Regions from separate parts of the Homo sapiens genome. Here region 1 is linked to region 2. The links come from fine-mapping of genetic effects on gene expression. Tissue or cell type: sigmoid colon. Region 2 holds a variant in brackets; the other region holds the start of a gene. All regions are shown on one strand. Distances are between the middles of the regions.

Region 1 (8,186 bases), 63 kb before region 2:
TGTCTGGTTTGAGATTACTCATGAGGTTGCAGTCACCTGAAGGCTTGACTGAGGATGGAGGATCTGCTTCCAAGATGGCCCACTCCCATGGCTAGCAAGCTGGTCTGGCTCCTGGTGGGAGGCCTCAGTTCCTCTCCAGGGCACTTTGAGTGCTCTCTGTGGCAGCTGGCTTCCCCAAGAGCAAGCAATCCAAGACACCAAGGCAGAAGCCACAGTGCCTTTTATAATCTGGCCTTTGAAGTCACATAGCATCACCTTCATTATACTCTTTTGGTCACAAAACTCAGCTCTGATGTGAGGGAAATTCCATGAGGGCATAAATATTAGGACACCATGATCACCAGGGACAATCTTGGAGTCTGGCTAACACAACATTTCTTCCAGAGGCTTTCTAGATTCACTAACTTCCTATGCCCTGCCTACCTGTTCTCAGTAGCTCAAATTCTTTAAAAATCAGAGCTCTTGGAGATCTCCCCCATAAAATCACATTTTCTGTTTTTCTTTATTATTTAATATTATGAAGTGTGAACTTGCAAAATTGCATTGTTAATTATCAAAGGACATAGTGCTGAGGAATTTTGTTCTCTAAAATCCTAGACTGTTAGAAAGTTTGTTGTTCTGAGATTCTATCAGTGAGAACAGAACATCCCTTTCTTGCCTGGCAGATTTGAACTCTTTGAGTCACTTAGAGTTACAGAAGCAGTCTCCATTTCCAGTGCAGAAGTTCAGATAAGGGATTTTCAGACACAATATTCTACATTAATCTTAAATGTATGTTTCTAAGAACTAGAATCTTGAATCTGCTTCTCAGCCCAGGTTTGATATTACATACAGATCTGATTTGCTTTAGGCCTATCAAGCACTGCTTTATTTAGATTTTACCTAAACTCCTCTCTTTCTCTAAATACTATAATGACTCCTTATTTCTTCCTTTTTTTTGAGACATGGCCACAATTCCTCTGCTGTATAGTATCTTTTGCTGTAGCAAATTAATAAACTTAATGGGTTCCAGATTTGGTCCTGGTGATTTTTGTCAGATGGGCTTTATCAATAGCTAAAATTATTTGAGCTCGAATAACTAGTGTAATTTTTTAGAATCTCCCATGCTTCTTGAACAAGGGTAACTTTTAGAATGTTTTGTCAATAGATCATTTCTATCTTTCCTCTGACTGTTTTGAAATCTATTTTCTAGACTGTTTTTGACTAATCTTGCTTGTACTTCCTTCACTGTTACAAACTCTAAGATGATACCGTTACTTTCTCACAAGGTTCCCAACTCTTTTCTAGCACTTTATTACTGAATTAGTAATTTCCTGTTTTGTCCTCCTGAGTGACTCCTGCGGTCCTTTAGAATTTAGCTACAGAATCACCTTTGTCAAGCCTTAAGCCTTTATTGAAAGCATTAGACAAAACTAAATATTTTCATGTTTGTGTTCTCATAGCACCTTGTTCATATCTCTAATATAGTACTTACCACATTTATACTTGATTTTTTTTACACGTTTTTCTTCTCTAACAGCCTCTGGAGAATATGATCTCCATGATCTGTTCATCCTTGTGTTATCTGTGCCAGGCATACTTAATTACGTAAATTATGTGAGGTCGTTGGGGCTCACAACACAATACTCCAAAATGAAGGTCTCAGTAGCAAAAGTTCTCTGCCCTACTCTGGCCCTCCTGTCTCTCAGTCCCGTATTTCCCTAGGCTAGCCATAGATATTAGGATCCCTATTCCTCAAGACAAGATGTAGAAACCAGAACCTCTATCCCCTAAAGCCAGCCATAAAAGCCTAAACATATTTTGCTAGTTTTCCCTCCCCCTTTTTCTGTAAAATCTGGCCATAAAGAAATTATCTGACCTGCCTTGTTTGACTGTAGGCTGTTAAGAGCTCCATTCCATTCCTGCCCTATACCCAGAAGGAAGGAATGGTGCTCAGAAGGCCAAGAAGAATCTAGACAGGCCTTGCTGGGTGTCCCCACTCAGTCTGTTAGCATTAGATTATACCATTTTTGTCCAATCACATTTCTACATAGCTGTCCATACTTTGTTGAACCTAAACACAAAAATGGACAATTTTCCAAGTATCTTTGGGTCTCCATTCTGAACGCTCCCATGTATACACATTAAATTTGTATGCCTTTTCTCCTATTAATTTTTTCTTCTATTAATCTGCCTTATGTCAGCGGTTTTCAGTTAACTTTCAGAGGGCCAAAACCTTTTGTCCCTCCAGGTAATGAAAATGTCCACATGACAAATAGTGAATTAGTAGGAGCTTCAGTTCTGCATAATTTAGAATTCACTGTTGAGCACCTCTATACGCATGCCATTATTGTACCTCGTCTTTGTGATCCTCATAACCTGTATTAGGCAACAGCTCATTTATATTGAGAAAACACCTAGGGCACAGCACCACTACTTTGTAGGCTACTTTAATATGTATGTGCATTATGCGAGGTTTTATGAGCTTATTTTCTGACACACTTGCTTTTCTCCAGTTTCCTCAGCTGAAAACAGCGATTCACTGTTACTGTATATATGCTAGGCTCAATGCTGGCGATAACAATTCCTGCAACATAGGGTCAGACAGGAGAAGAATGTTGTAATCTGCAAAGCCCTTCTGATTCTGGGAGTGAGGCCAGCATTAATACAACGCACGATTGTTACTTCTGAATGTCCCTTTGCAAAGAACAGTGTTTCTCAAACTTTTTTCTGACCAGATCTGCATACATTTTACATCGCCGCTGGCGATACATACGTGCAAAACACTGAAATCGAAATTTCTCTAAACAACTCCTTTACTACGTGATGTACTGTGAAACTTTTCTATTTTGTTCTATTCTCAATTTTATTAAAAACGGAGGGTGATGATCCCGATCTACCAAACCAATTTCACAATGCGCTAGAGATTATAACCCGCGGTTTGGAAAATACTGGCTTGGAAAAAGCTCTTTGATCTGTGTCATTCTCCTCACATCTCCCTACACCTCTGCGGAGTTCCGATTGTTTGGTTTCGTCCTGATAATCACTGTGCTGTGTTTTCCCTACACGCTCTGTGACGGGGCCGTCCGCCTCCTTCCTGGGCTCCTTTAAGAGGGTGGTAACGGTACATCACCGCGGGAGTGGAGAGGCAGGGCCCACTAGGTCGTCGCTGCAGGCCAGGCCCGCTCATCCAGTTATTGTGAAAGCCGGGGTGTGCGCGCGAAGAGTGGGAGGGTAGGGGTGAGGCAGGGGCAGCACTGACGCCTCGCAGGGCTGAGTAGCAACAGCTCCTCCGCGCCGCGTTTCCGGAGACCCTGAAGGAGTCCGCGCGTGCGCAGAGCGCGTCCCGGGAACTGTTCCGCCCACGGAGGCTGCCGAGCGCGCTCCCGCCGGGCCAAAGTACAAAGTGGGCTCCAGAGCGCGGGCGGCGCGGCGGCGCGAGCCAGGGGGCGGTCCTGCGCGGCCGGCCCCGCCCTCTGCTCTCCTCCCAGTCTCCCCCGCGCTGCGTGCAGTAAGGTAGCCGCCGCCGCCGCCGCCGCCGCGTCCCCTCGCCGGCTCGCTGGTACCGGCAGTGCCATGGCGGCCTTCAGCAAGTACTTGACGGCGCGAAACTCCTCGCTGGCTGGTGCCGCGTTCCTGCTGCTCTGCCTGCTCCACAAGCGGCGCCGCGCCCTCGGCCTGCACGGGTAAGAAGGCCCGTAGCCGTGCAGCTTTCCCGGGCTGGAGCGGGCGCTCCCCGCGCGCTCTCTCTCCCCACCCGGCCGACAGGTCTCTTTGCCCGACGGGGTCGGGCGGAGAGAGGGCCGACCGCGACTGCCGTGGGACTTCAATGTCAGGGTGTCCGCGAGTCCCCGCCACGACGGCGTCGGTCCCAGCTGGCCTGTCCGGCGACCTCGCTCCACCCCGGGAGTGCGAATTCTTCTGTGCCCGCGGGCGAACCGGCGCCCAGCCAGCACTCAGGCAGCGGCCTCCAGTTGGGGGTGGGAGGGGGATGCGGTGTGTCCCCCACCCCCTTCCCTACATCACCCCCTTCTGTGTCAACTTTCTGGGTGTGTTCTGGTTTTGCCATCTCATCTTCAGACCGTGAAGGATTTGTTTTGGGGACGTGGATGTGTGATTGAGGATGGGGATTGGATTCGCCAGGCTGGAGGCTGGTGTCTAAGTCACTTGGACGAGGTTTGGCTCGATTCCCGACTAACTGCTATTGAAAGTCGCGAGGGTGGCTTCTATGAAACTATTCCCGGTCCACTTGGCAGGATTGCCGTCTAAAGTGGTGAGCCCTTGGAGTCGGTGAACCCTTTGGTCGGTGAACATTTGGTCGGTGGCATTTCATCCGGAAAGGCTGGATCGGTTCTGTCGGACTTAGAGGGAAATGTTTTCCTTCCTGGGCTCTGTAGGTGAAAGATGAGAGTGTGGTTTAGGTGAGGATCAAGCTCCTTTTTAATGACACGCCACTGCTTCCACCGCGGGAGAATTTCAGTGCTTAGATTTAACTTTGGGAGGTTATCAGTTCAGAAAAAGTAAAAAAGAGAGAGCTGAATTACGGTTGCGACATACAGGTATGTATGTCACATACATGCAATTTTTATTTGCTGGACAAGTGAAAGAGAAAAGGCTACTTCCCAAGCGTTCTTGCCAGTCATTGAATATTTCGTATTAAATCTTGACATACTACTTTCATGAATTTTATTTCATTCATTCCTCTGAGCAGGTACTGTTGCCTCCCGTGTTTGATTTGCCTACAATATCTAATTAGTAGTAAAATTTGGGCTAAAACACAAATAGACTTCTAGTTTATAGTACCCTTTCCATTAAGTTCTTTCTAGCCGCCTTCTGTTTTTATCTTACTAGAGTCTGAAGTGATGATCTTTCTTTTCCTTCCTAAATCCATTTAACAGAGTTGAAAATGATTTGCAGCATAGTCTGGGCAATAACAGCGCTTACTCATTTTTCTTCTATTCAGTTTGCTTTTAAAAGGATTAATTTGGGAAAATAAAAAGCAAGTTTTTCTGTTGGTTTGTATGAACTCCCAGTTGCAAATAGAAGTTACCTGTTACCTGGGAACATGCCAGTAGAAAGAAGATGTTAGGTCCTTTAACTTGAATTCTGTTTTTGCAAAGAAGTGTTTCAGGGCATAGAACAGGTGTTTTAATATGGAGGAGGGGACTCGAGGACAGCCCTACAAGTTCTGGATTACTTTTATGATTATATGTATATGTGATATAGTATCACATACATGCCACATACATATAGTACACATAGAGCTTGAAGAATTTTTACAAGTAGAACACACTCGTGTAATCAGCACCCAGATCAAGAAACAGAACATTATCAGCACCCCAGAAATTCTCCTCATGCCCCCATCCAGTCACAGTCCACCTAACTACTAAACCAGTTTGTAAGACCATAGATTATTGCTAAGGGAAATTTTAAACAGAATCTATTGGGAAATAGTAGCGATAGAAGTAAAATAATGTAATAGAATTTGTCTTATTAAATAATTTTAGCTCCTCATTTGCCATTGTAAAATGCCTAAAAAAATTTTTTTTTGAGAAACTTTGTGAGCTTTTGTGGGGATTAAATTCTTTAGCAGGAGATGTACTGAACAAAAGATTATTATTAGTCTTTTGCATTGGGATGAGTGGGGAAAATCTCTATTTTACACAGTATTTTGTTGGAGGAGATTGCAGATTCTGAGCAGATAATCATGAAGTTTAAATTGTTGAGGTGAAATGATTGAACTATTTTGAAACCATTAAAAATGGTATTGAGTGTATTTTTGTAGATATTGTACTTCCAGAAGCTTACAAATATCTTTTAGTCACCACCTTTGGTATCACAGTTTGAAGATTAGAAGATTCTAACTTTATATTTGAGTGGGCTTTTGAATATCTTTGGTAACAGAACTGATTAATTTTAATATCTGGTGCTTAATTAAGGAAACTGTGGCTACTTGGCCTTCTTTTGTCTATGTTGTTAATAGTAGGTTGGTTTTAGAATATATATTCCCTTAGAATTGGATAGGTAATAGAGCTAGTAAAATCACTTTAAAAGTTACAGTGTAACATTATTCCAAACATTGGGAGAATGAGTAATTAAATGTTCTGGGTTACTTTTAATTTTTGTTAATGTAATTTTTTTCACTCAGTTAAATCTCATATATATGTGTGTGTGTTTCTGACCTTTTATTGTGGAAAATTTCACACATATAAAAAATAAATAGAATAATACAAGGATTGCCCAATGCACTTTACCCAAGGAGTACCAACAACATTCTATATTCTTGTTTCATCTATTTCAACCTGCCTGTCACCCCTTATTTTTATAGGTTTTTTAGGTAAAATTTATATACATTGAAATGTACAAATATTAGTTGTACATTTTTTAAACAAATGGATACACTATGTAACACATCCCTATGACAAATTAGAACATTTCTATCCCACCAGAAAGTTCCTTTGTATTCATTCCTGATCAGCTTGTATTCACTCCTGATTCCAGCACTGCTAAGCTAACTTTTTCACCTTAGTTTGCCTAATCTTACCTTTTATTTTATTATTTATGGGGAAAAGAAGAATCTTTTTACTCATGGATAAAGAGGGCTATTTAAAGGAAGTGTCTATTTCAGAATGTTATATTACTGTACTGGGAGCTATAAGATGTGTGTGTGTGTGTGTGTGTGTGTGTGTATTACAAAAATATATGACTTGTTTTCTCAGGGAGCTTACCTTCTTGTTAGGGAAAAGAAACTTAAACACTGATAGCAGAATGAAATGTACAGATAGACATGTCTTAGAAGTTTTGAGAAAGACAAGATTAATGTGTTTGGGAAGGGTTGGGGAAGGCTTCATGAAGGATGTGTGTTAAGCCTAGAAAGGGGGTAGGAGTGGATAACTGGAATAAAGTGACTGTTACAGCATCCTTTATCAGATTTTTGTTGCATTTATGTTAGAAAGAAACTTTGTGGTGCCCTTTCAATCCATCTTCCACTGCCACCAGAGCTCTTTTTAAGAAGCTCAGATATGATCATAATATTCCTTCATTAAAATCATTAATCTACTCTAAAATACAAACTTTCTGTATTCATGGTGTGGTCCTTCCCTACTTTTCCCACTCATCCAACCATAAGTGCTGGGATTACAGGCATGAGCCAACTTGCCCAGCTGATACTTCTTTTTCTTCAAGACTCAGTCAACACTTTGTCTTAGGTGTTTTCTGTCTTTTTCTGATTTCCAAACTGATGTAAGTGTCCTCTGCTTTTATGATACTGTAGGCCAGGGGTCCCCAACCCCCGGGCTGTGGACTGGTACAGGTTGGTGGCCTGTTAGGACCCAGCTGCACAGCCTGTGCAAGCGAGCATTACCACTTGAGCTCCGCCTCCTGTCAGATCAGCAGGGGCATTAGATTCTCATAGGAGCGTGAACCTGTTGTAAACTGCACATGTGAGGGATCTAGGTTGCACACTTCTTATGAGAATCTAATGCCTGATGATGTGAGGCAAAACAGTTTCATCCTGAAACCATCCCCCAACTCAACCCCAATTTGTGGAAAAATCGTGTTCCGCAAAACTGGTCCCTGGTGCCAAAAAGGTTGGAGACTACTGCTCTAGGTATCCCCTACTCTAGCACTTACCATTCTGTATTGTACTAGTTTGTTTTCTTGGCTTTTGCCTACATCAGATCCTGAGTTTCTTGAGGGCATGAACTGAGTCATCTTTAATTCCCTAGTTCGGCTCTGTCATGGGTTAGACAGTGTTTATAGAGAGGATAAATGACATAGGATAGTTGAAGAACTTTTAAGCGTAATTGACAGGCATTTGGAGATGCCTAGTACAAACATGAATAGAAACATTCTTTTTGCAGAAGTAATAGTTGTGTACCTGAGCATATATAACCTGACCTGGGTAGTGGGAAATCAGTGGGCCAATTTTAGAAGGCAGGGAATGGTACCAGTCTGTATAGCCATAGTATTTTATTATCTTTAAAAAACAGAACAGAACAAAGCAGTTTCTTTCGCTTCTTATCAATGCTTGTCAAATAGAGTTCGGATTTCTCATCTTGGATTTCAGAGCCTCCCTCAATCTGGTCTTACTTTACCTGGCTAATCTTATATGCCATTGCCTGCCAATGGGTACTCTCTGTTCCAAATAGGACAGTTTCTACACTGTTCTTTGAACAGGCCACACTCATTTTTGGCTTTGGAGCTTT
Region 2 (8,186 bases):
ATCTTTAAGTTAACGAGTGCAATTGGAGCTCAGGTGAGTCTGCTTTTATTTCAACTTTTAAATTGATATAATATAATATTTGAAATACATATTGTGAATAGCTTGATGGCCTGTAAGAATTTTTGTAGATCTCAAAGAATGTATTTTCACATGATTTACCTAACAAAGTCTGGTTATAAAATAATACTTCATTCGAGATTTTAGAAGTACTAATTTTTCTTTTTAATTTTCCTTAAATTAGGTACTTGGAAAAATTTTGTGGCATTAAAAACCAGACAAATGTATTGGCCAGGCGTGGTGGCTCATGCCTGTAATCCCAGCACTTTGGGAGGCTGAGATGGGAGGATCGCTTGAATCCAGGAGTTCGAGACAAGCCTGGACAAAAAGCGAGACCCGCTTCTTTAAAAAATAATAATAAAACAGAAGTTCTTAAACCATGAATATACTTGTACTTATTGTTTCAAAGTAATGTCTAAAAAGAGATATGGAGACATCCATTTTAATATGAAATTCTAATGTTAAAATAACGATACATTTAGAGTGGGTGTAACAGTTCCAAGAATATTTTATAATGTAAATGGTTGGCTATCCCATGAGCCTTATTATCCAAGTCTCTGATATTTGTGATGGCAAGAATCACTTTTAAGTTTTCTTTGAGTTATCTTATTGAAATGTAACTTTAGTCATTTAATATGTAATGTTATTGTTACATATTTATAACACAGCCATATAATAGTATGGTTGTTTTACATATGTGTATGTGTGTATATGCATTTCAGTTGATTAATAAATTATTTCCATACTGGTTTTTGTTGCTTTCCAAAACACTGGAAAAGCAGGGTTTTGGTTTTGCTTTGTTTTGTTTTTCGAATTTTTCTGTTTATTTTCCTAATTCTTTGCTGTCTTGTGATCCAGGTTTTATCATTCTTGTATTTTGTTTTACTATAACCAAGTGAATAGGCCAAATCCTTCTTGTCTCCTTGCAGTCATATTTTTATGGTACTTAACTACATTTTTGTGATACTTAAATATGTCTCCATGTCTACTTGTTATCTGATTCTGCATTTCTTAAAGGCAGAAACTGTTTTAGTTATCTTTTTGGTCCACATTTGTAGTAGTTGTTGATATGCATTGAATTGATCAGATTTACTTTTTTTTTTTTAATCTTGAATACTTACTAGCACATATATTGTGCTAGATAGTAGGAATAAAAAGATAAGTAAGACACAATTCCTGCTGAAGAGGAATTACAATGTGGTAAAACAGGTAGATAGTCAAACAATTATGATGCAGCATGATAAAGTTTAGTAATAGAAGTTTCAAGAAAGTATTTAGTGCCAAGAAGAACTGGAGGTGATATCTGAGCTACTTTGGGGAGGTAAGTAAACATCCATTAGATTATGTCAGGCTTGCCAAACATAAGAACAACCTCACTGAATGGAAACTGTTCAGGAAACATTTATATATTTTAGTATGGCAGAGTATAGGGTATATAGGGGAATGAGGGAAGTGCCTATGATGAACTTGGAAAGGTATGCTTCAAGCATACCTTTCTTTTTCTCTTGGGATGGTCAATGGGTGATGAGGTCACGTACAAAGTTATTAATACATAGTACAGCAGCTGGAAGCAAGATGTACACGCAGGGAAAGACAGAGCTCGTTCAGGGGGAGCTGAACTTGAGGCATCTGCACAGTATTAAGGTAAAGATGTGTAGTACTTATTTCTTGGGTTCATAAGAGTGATAGGACTAGAGGTATAGATTTGAGATGAGAAGAGAACTAAGGAAGGAGTTTGAGGGAATATTAACATTAAAAAAGAAGGCAAGAAAAAGAGGTCTAAGAATTATTGTGGAATCTTAAGAGATTATCAAGAAGAGTTCCAACAGGAGAGTGTTAGATAACATAGAAAAACTGTGAACTGCAATTAGGAGTTTTTAGGTGAGCAAAATGTAGGAGAGCTGAGGGATAAGCTACAGTGGTAAGAGGAAAAGCCCATGAGTAGTAAAAGTGTAGAGGCTACTGTGTACTTTTTCAGAAAAAAAACAAAGGGAAAAAATTACCCAGTAGGGCAATTTCTTTCAGTCATTGAGGTTAATTATAAAAATTGTACATGTTTGTATCTAAGTGAATTTATTATTATATCCCAGAACTTTGTGTATCTTTCTCTCCCAATAATAATAGGGCCCAGCGAGCATGATGGCCTACTTGGTTGTTTCTGGGCTATTCCTAACTCGACTTCGAAGACCCATTGGTAAGATGACAATAACTGAGCAAAAGTATGAAGGAGAATATAGATATGTTAATTCTCGGCTCATCACAAACAGGTAAAGACAAATGCATTAAAGCCTTGCTAAAAATTAATTTCTATGGATATTGATGTCATTTAAATTGACTCCAAAAAGTCTAGTGACACTGTTACTGTAATAATGTGCATATTGTGTTGAAAATATACATTATGAAAGAGACTAGTTTTATAAAGTAGTAATCATGAATATTTTGAACTCTTTTTCTTACTAACCATGTAGTATTCCTGATTCACCTGTTCATACCTTCTGTTGATGAATTTTCTGTTAATTTTACTTCAGACATAATCAGTTTACAATTCAAATTTCAACTTACAATACCTGTTCCAAGACAATTTTGTCTCAATTTTTCCACAAATATTTTTATTTTGACTGTTCATAATGCTCAATGATTCACTGTCACTGCATGTGCCTCTACCTATTTTCTAGAGTTTTTTAAATGTAAGATAGGAAGAAAAAGTGTGGACTTTGGAGCCAGCCATACTAGCTTCAAAATCTACCTCTTCCACTTATCAGTTGCATGTATTTGATTTTAGCGAATTATTCATAGTTTCACTTTTGTTTATAATAGGTAGATAATATAGGGTTGCAATGAGGATTAAATTTGATAATACATATAAAGCTTCCAGCTCAGTTTTTTATATGGAGCAACTGCTCAATAAATGTTCTCATATATTGATCTGTTAATGTTAAGTCATTTTGAGGGTTCTAATATGTATTTAATATTCTACTCTATAGGCATTTGCAAATGACAGTTCCCTCTTCCTTTATTTCCTTGGATTGCTAAAATAGTACAAGTTTTAAATAGGGTTTTTTGCTCTAGGGAGGCAGCGGAATAGAGTTAAGAGGTGATTTGCCAAGTAAATGAAAGATGCCTTTTAGTGAAAGAAGCAGAAAGCATGACTCATGGCTCCAGTAATAAGAACACTCACTGCTTCACGTGAGAACCCTTAAGACAGGGCAGTTCCAGGTATGGCATTATCAGGGCTCTGGCTCTCTGGTGTTCTCTTGGCTCTGCCCTGCTTTGTATGCTGCCCCATTCCTCGGGCTAATTCTTCTTGTGACCACAAGATGGCGATAGCAGTTACAGATTTCACTAGCTCCTCTCCCCTGCAGAAAGCTCCAGAAACAAAAAGGGGCCATCTCGCCTGGTGTGTCTTTATGAGAGCAAAGAAACCTTTCCCAAGAGTCCCACAACTGACTTTCCCTCATATCTTATTGGCTGGAATGGTTACTTGACCATGCCTAAAGCAATCACAGCAAAGTGATTGGCTTAGACCAGTTGGGACCCTAAATGGGGTTGAGGCATTCCTAAAGCATTAGGGTACATGGAAAATAATAGATAACTTTACAAAAGTTGGGATTATTTTAGGAAGAAGAACAATGAAGAGAATAGATGTTGGATGGGCAGCCATCAATATTCCAGGATGTTTTATCCTTTCAGATTTTTCATTAAGGCTAAAATGACTCAGTTCAGGAGGAGAATCCTCACCTCATCTTCTTCCATAGGCTTAGGTGTGGAGAGGAGATAGAAGGAAGTTTTTTTAAAAAGTAATTAGAGGTATAGAATTGTAGGCTTCTTATACTCTTGAGTCTCTGTCATTGTGTCAAGGAAACCATGAAACGCGTGACAAATGTGTCATATCTTATGGGAAGTTAATTTTACTTGAAGTGGTTGAGGTAGGTGGTACCTTGTTTTTATGAAAAACGCAGGTCCATTTCAAAATAGAAATATAAAACATAAATTGTTTAGGGGAAAAAAGAGACTTTAAAGAAATATTTCAACCTTGCCTTCTAGACTTCTCTATAAATATTTTTCTCTGCCATAAGAGGTACTTTGCTGGGAAAGCTTACATCATTCCTGTGTAATAGAAAGACTATAAATGTTAGGGTCAGATAGGAGTTATGATTTCAGCTCCCTGACCTGCTGGCTCTGCAACCTTTACAAATTTACTTAACTACACTGAACTTCTCTTCATCTATAAAATACC[T/C]TTTTTTTCTAGTCGTGATCCCTGTGGCCCTTGTGGACCCATGCACATCTGCTCAGGAAACGTGGAATTGTTGTGAGGATATGATGGGGTTCCAGGGTTTCCTCCTGGGAGCTGGCACTTTGAAGCCGGTGGGACTTAGCCTGCTTTTCTGTCTTTAAAAGGCTGTATGTCAAGTCATCACTATCCATCTTTTTCTAGCTGTTGCTTTTTCATCTCTTTCTTGTTTGGGCCTGTACTTTAACTTGAAGTCTGCAATGTTGGTCCCAGCCCTGCCTTTCTGTACATCACAGCAACTTCTTTCTCTAATTTCGAATTTCTGAGAATTCGTGCAGTATGTCTTTTGCAGCCAGGATACCTATGCCATAGGTTGCAGTCCAGCATATGATTCAGTCAGGAGTGTATTCCTGTGCTCCGATCAGCTGAGCTAGGAACAGAATCTCAGGTATAGACTGTGGCTTGAGATGCACCAGATAAGCTCTTAGTCACAAAATGTCCATTTAAATACAAACATTCAGCCATCATATACTGTATTTCAATTATTTTCCAAGCATAGGTAACATTAAAATTAATTGCTAAATTATTTTCTTTAATAGTGAAGAAATTGCCTTTTACAATGGGAATAAAAGAGAAAAGCAGACAGTCCACTCAGTCTTCCGAAAACTGGTAAGATAACACACTTGAGGTTCATGTGTTTATGGAAAGGGTTTTTTTTGTTTGTTTGTTTTGCCTATGGCCGACACACATACACACACACACAAACACACACGTATGTATACATATCTTAAAGATTTTTTGAAAAATAGCTATAAAGGATTTTATACTGCATTTTTAATAAAAAATATGAGATTAAAAACTATCATATCAATATATTCAAGTGCCCATTTATAAAATTGCATAGATTTATTAAAATAATATTAAGTGTACCATCTGATCTTTGACAAACCTGACAAAAACAAGAAATGAGGAAAGGATTCCCTGTTTAATAAATGGTGCTGGGAAAACTGGCTAGCCATATGTAGAAAGCTGAAACTGGATCCCTTCCTTACACCTTATATAAAAATTAATTCAAGATGGATTAAAGACTTAAATGTCAGACCTAAAACCATAAAAACCCTAGAAGAAAACCTAGGCAATACCATTCAGGACATAGGCATGGGCAAGGACTTCATGTCTAAAACACCAAAAGCAATGGCAACAAAAGCCAAAATTGACAAATGGGATCTAATTAAACTAAAGAGCTTCTGCACAGCAAAAGAAACTACCATCAGAGTGAACAGGCAACCTACAGAATGGGAGAAATTTTTTGCAATCTACCCATCTGACAAAGGGCTAATATCCAGAATCTACAAAGAACTTAAACAAATTTACAAGAAAAAAACAACCCCATCAAAAAGTGGGCAAAGGATATGAACAGACACTTCTGAAAAGAAGACATTTATGCAGCCAACAGACACGTGAAAAAATGCTCATCATCGCTGGCCATCAGAGAAATGCAAATCAAAACCACAGTGAGACACTATCTCACACCAGTTAGAATGGCGATCATTGAAAAGTCAGGAAACAACGTGCTGGAGAGGATGTGGAGAAATAGGAACACTTTTACACTGTTGGTGGGACTGTAAACTAGTTCAACCATTGTGGAAGACAGTGTGGCAATTCCTCAGGGATCTAGAACTAGAAACACCATTTGACCCAACCATCCCATTACTGGGTATATACCCAAAGGATTATAATCATGCTGCTATAAAGACACATGCACACATACGTTTATTGTGGCACTATTCACAATAGCAAAGACTTGGAACCAACCCGAATGTCCATCAGTGATAGACTGGACAAAGAAAATGTGGCACATATACACCATGGAATACTATGCAGCCATAAAAATTATGAGTTCATGTCCTTTGTGGGGACATGGATGCAGCTGGCAACCATCATTCTGAGCAAACTGTTGCAAGGACGGAAAACCAAACACTGCATGTTCTCACTCATAGGTGGGAATTGAACAATGAGAACACCTGGACCCAGGGTGGGGAACACCACACACCGGGGCCTGTTGTGGGGTGGGGGCCTGGGGGAGGGATAGCATTAGGAGATATACCTAATGTAAATGACGACTTAATGAGTGCAGCACACCAACATGGCAAATGCATGCATATGTAACAAACCTGCACGTTGTGCACATGTACCCTAGAACTTAAAGTATAATCAAAAACATAAAAAAAAAATTAAGTGTATTTTTACAGAGGTTGCTTAGGAGCCTTATTTAGTGATTCCCACAGAAAGAATTTGTTCCTGAAGCATTCATGAAAATACAATAAAGATTATTATGTAAAGCAAGAGTCAGCAAACTTTTTCCATAAAGGGCAAGATAGTATGTATATATTTTAGGCTTTTCATACCACACAGTGTCTTGCAACTATTCAGCTCCGCTACTCAAGAGTAGCTATATATAATACATGAATGAGTGGGTGTGGCTATGTTCTAATAAAACTTTACTTAAAAAAACAAGTAGCAGGCTAGATTTGGACTATGGGTCAGAGTTTACTGGCTTTTTGTTTTAAAGAATATAAGCATTGTTTCTTGTGAAAGCTTTACTTCAGTTTTTATTTAATTGCCACTTGGAAAATTTGAATTCAAGTACTTTTATTCCATTATTTATTCAAAAGATATTGAATGCCGTCTAGTTGCCTGTGCTCACTCCAGGTGCTAAGGATGATGGTGGTGGACATGATGGATAAAATCTTGCCTTTAAGGAGCTTACATTTTAGTGGAAGTCTGAAGTTTGTGAAATTAAATGTATATTTTAGATGAGTTAAAGAGGTTAAAGAAATTGTCATTTTAAATTATTTCAGAAATTGGATTTTTGCCTCGTCGGTATTTAACATGGCAGAACTTTTAGAGTGCTCACTGGTAGAATGCATTTAAGGTAATTTTTCAGGGGCCTGCAGTTCACCAGTTTGCTCTCCACACGGCTTGCTTATTCTCATCCTTTAGATTTTCAGCCCAAATGTTAACACCTTATTGAAGCTTTGTCTTCTCTGATCAGCCTATTTGAAATGGCCTCCAACAGTTACTTCTTGTTTTAATCATCATCTTTCCTTAAAAGTATATATATATTTGCAGTCAACCCTCTGCATCTGTGGGTTCCAAATCCATGGATTCAACCACACAGATTGAAAATATTCAGAAAAAGAAATTGTGTCTGTACTTATGTACACATATTTTTTTCTTGTCATTATTCTCTGAACAATACAGACATTAGTGTAATAGCTATTTACATTGTATTAAGTTTTATAAGTAATTTAGAGATGACTTAAAGTGTTTGGGATGAGCCAGTTGCGGTGGCTCACCCCTGTAATCCCAGCACTTTGGGAGGCTGAGGCGGGCAGATCAGTTGAGGTCAGGAGTTCGAGACCAGCCTGACCAACATGGCAAAACCCCATCTCTACTAAAAATACAAAAATTAGCCGGTTGTTGTGGCGGGGGCCTATAATCCCAGCTACTCGGGAGGCTGAGGCAGGAGAATCACTGGAACCCAGGAGGCGGAGGTTGCATTGAGCCAAGATGGCACCACTGCACTCCAGCCTTGGCGACAGAGTGAGACTCTGTCTCAAAAAGTAAATAAAGTGTATGGGATGTCGTACTCAGGTATATGCAAATACTATGCCATTTTTCATCAGGGACTTGAGCATCCATGGATTTTGGTATCCAGAAGGTCCTGGAACCAATCCCATCCCCTTTGGATACCGAGGGATGACTGTATTACAGTCTCTAATTATCTTGTTTACTAGTTATGCTCTTTCATTAGAATGTAAACTCCATAAATTCAGGGACCTTCTCTGTTCTATTCATTGTATCTCCAGCTTGAGCACAGTGTCTGACACATGGT

Direction of the effects. Alleles are on the strand shown, and positions count from the first base shown. SD is a standard deviation of normalised expression in the study named.
In carriers of allele C in region 2, the expression in sigmoid colon of the gene that starts at base 3,466 in region 1 tends to be lower than with T alone (moderate effect, 0.71 SD a copy in GTEx).

Evidence for each region. PIP is the estimated chance that this variant, and not a neighbour inherited with it, causes the effect.
Region 1: it holds the start of ABCD3, and the variant in region 2 is fine-mapped to the expression of ABCD3 in sigmoid colon (GTEx, PIP above 0.99). The same link has a PIP of 0.9 or more in aorta, blood mononuclear cells, esophagus muscle, gastroesophageal junction, subcutaneous fat and tibial artery.

Annotation. Positions count from the first base shown.
Region 1 is chr1:94,414,924-94,423,109 of GRCh38, forward strand. ABCD3 (ATP binding cassette subfamily D member 3) reads left to right here and starts at 3,466. Exons shown (of 23, transcript NM_002858.4): 1 at 3,466-3,665. The coding sequence starts at 3,556. RefSeq lists enhancers at 2,655-3,446, 3,918-4,057 and a silencer at 3,208-3,587.
Region 2 is chr1:94,478,283-94,486,468 of GRCh38, forward strand. ABCD3 (ATP binding cassette subfamily D member 3) reads left to right here. Exons shown (of 23, transcript NM_002858.4): 8 at 1-33; 9 at 2,182-2,324; 10 at 4,888-4,957. Among named protein-coding and RNA genes, the nearest start is that of F3, 59 kb to the right of the region's middle. The variant T/C (reference allele first, on the strand shown) is at 4,295.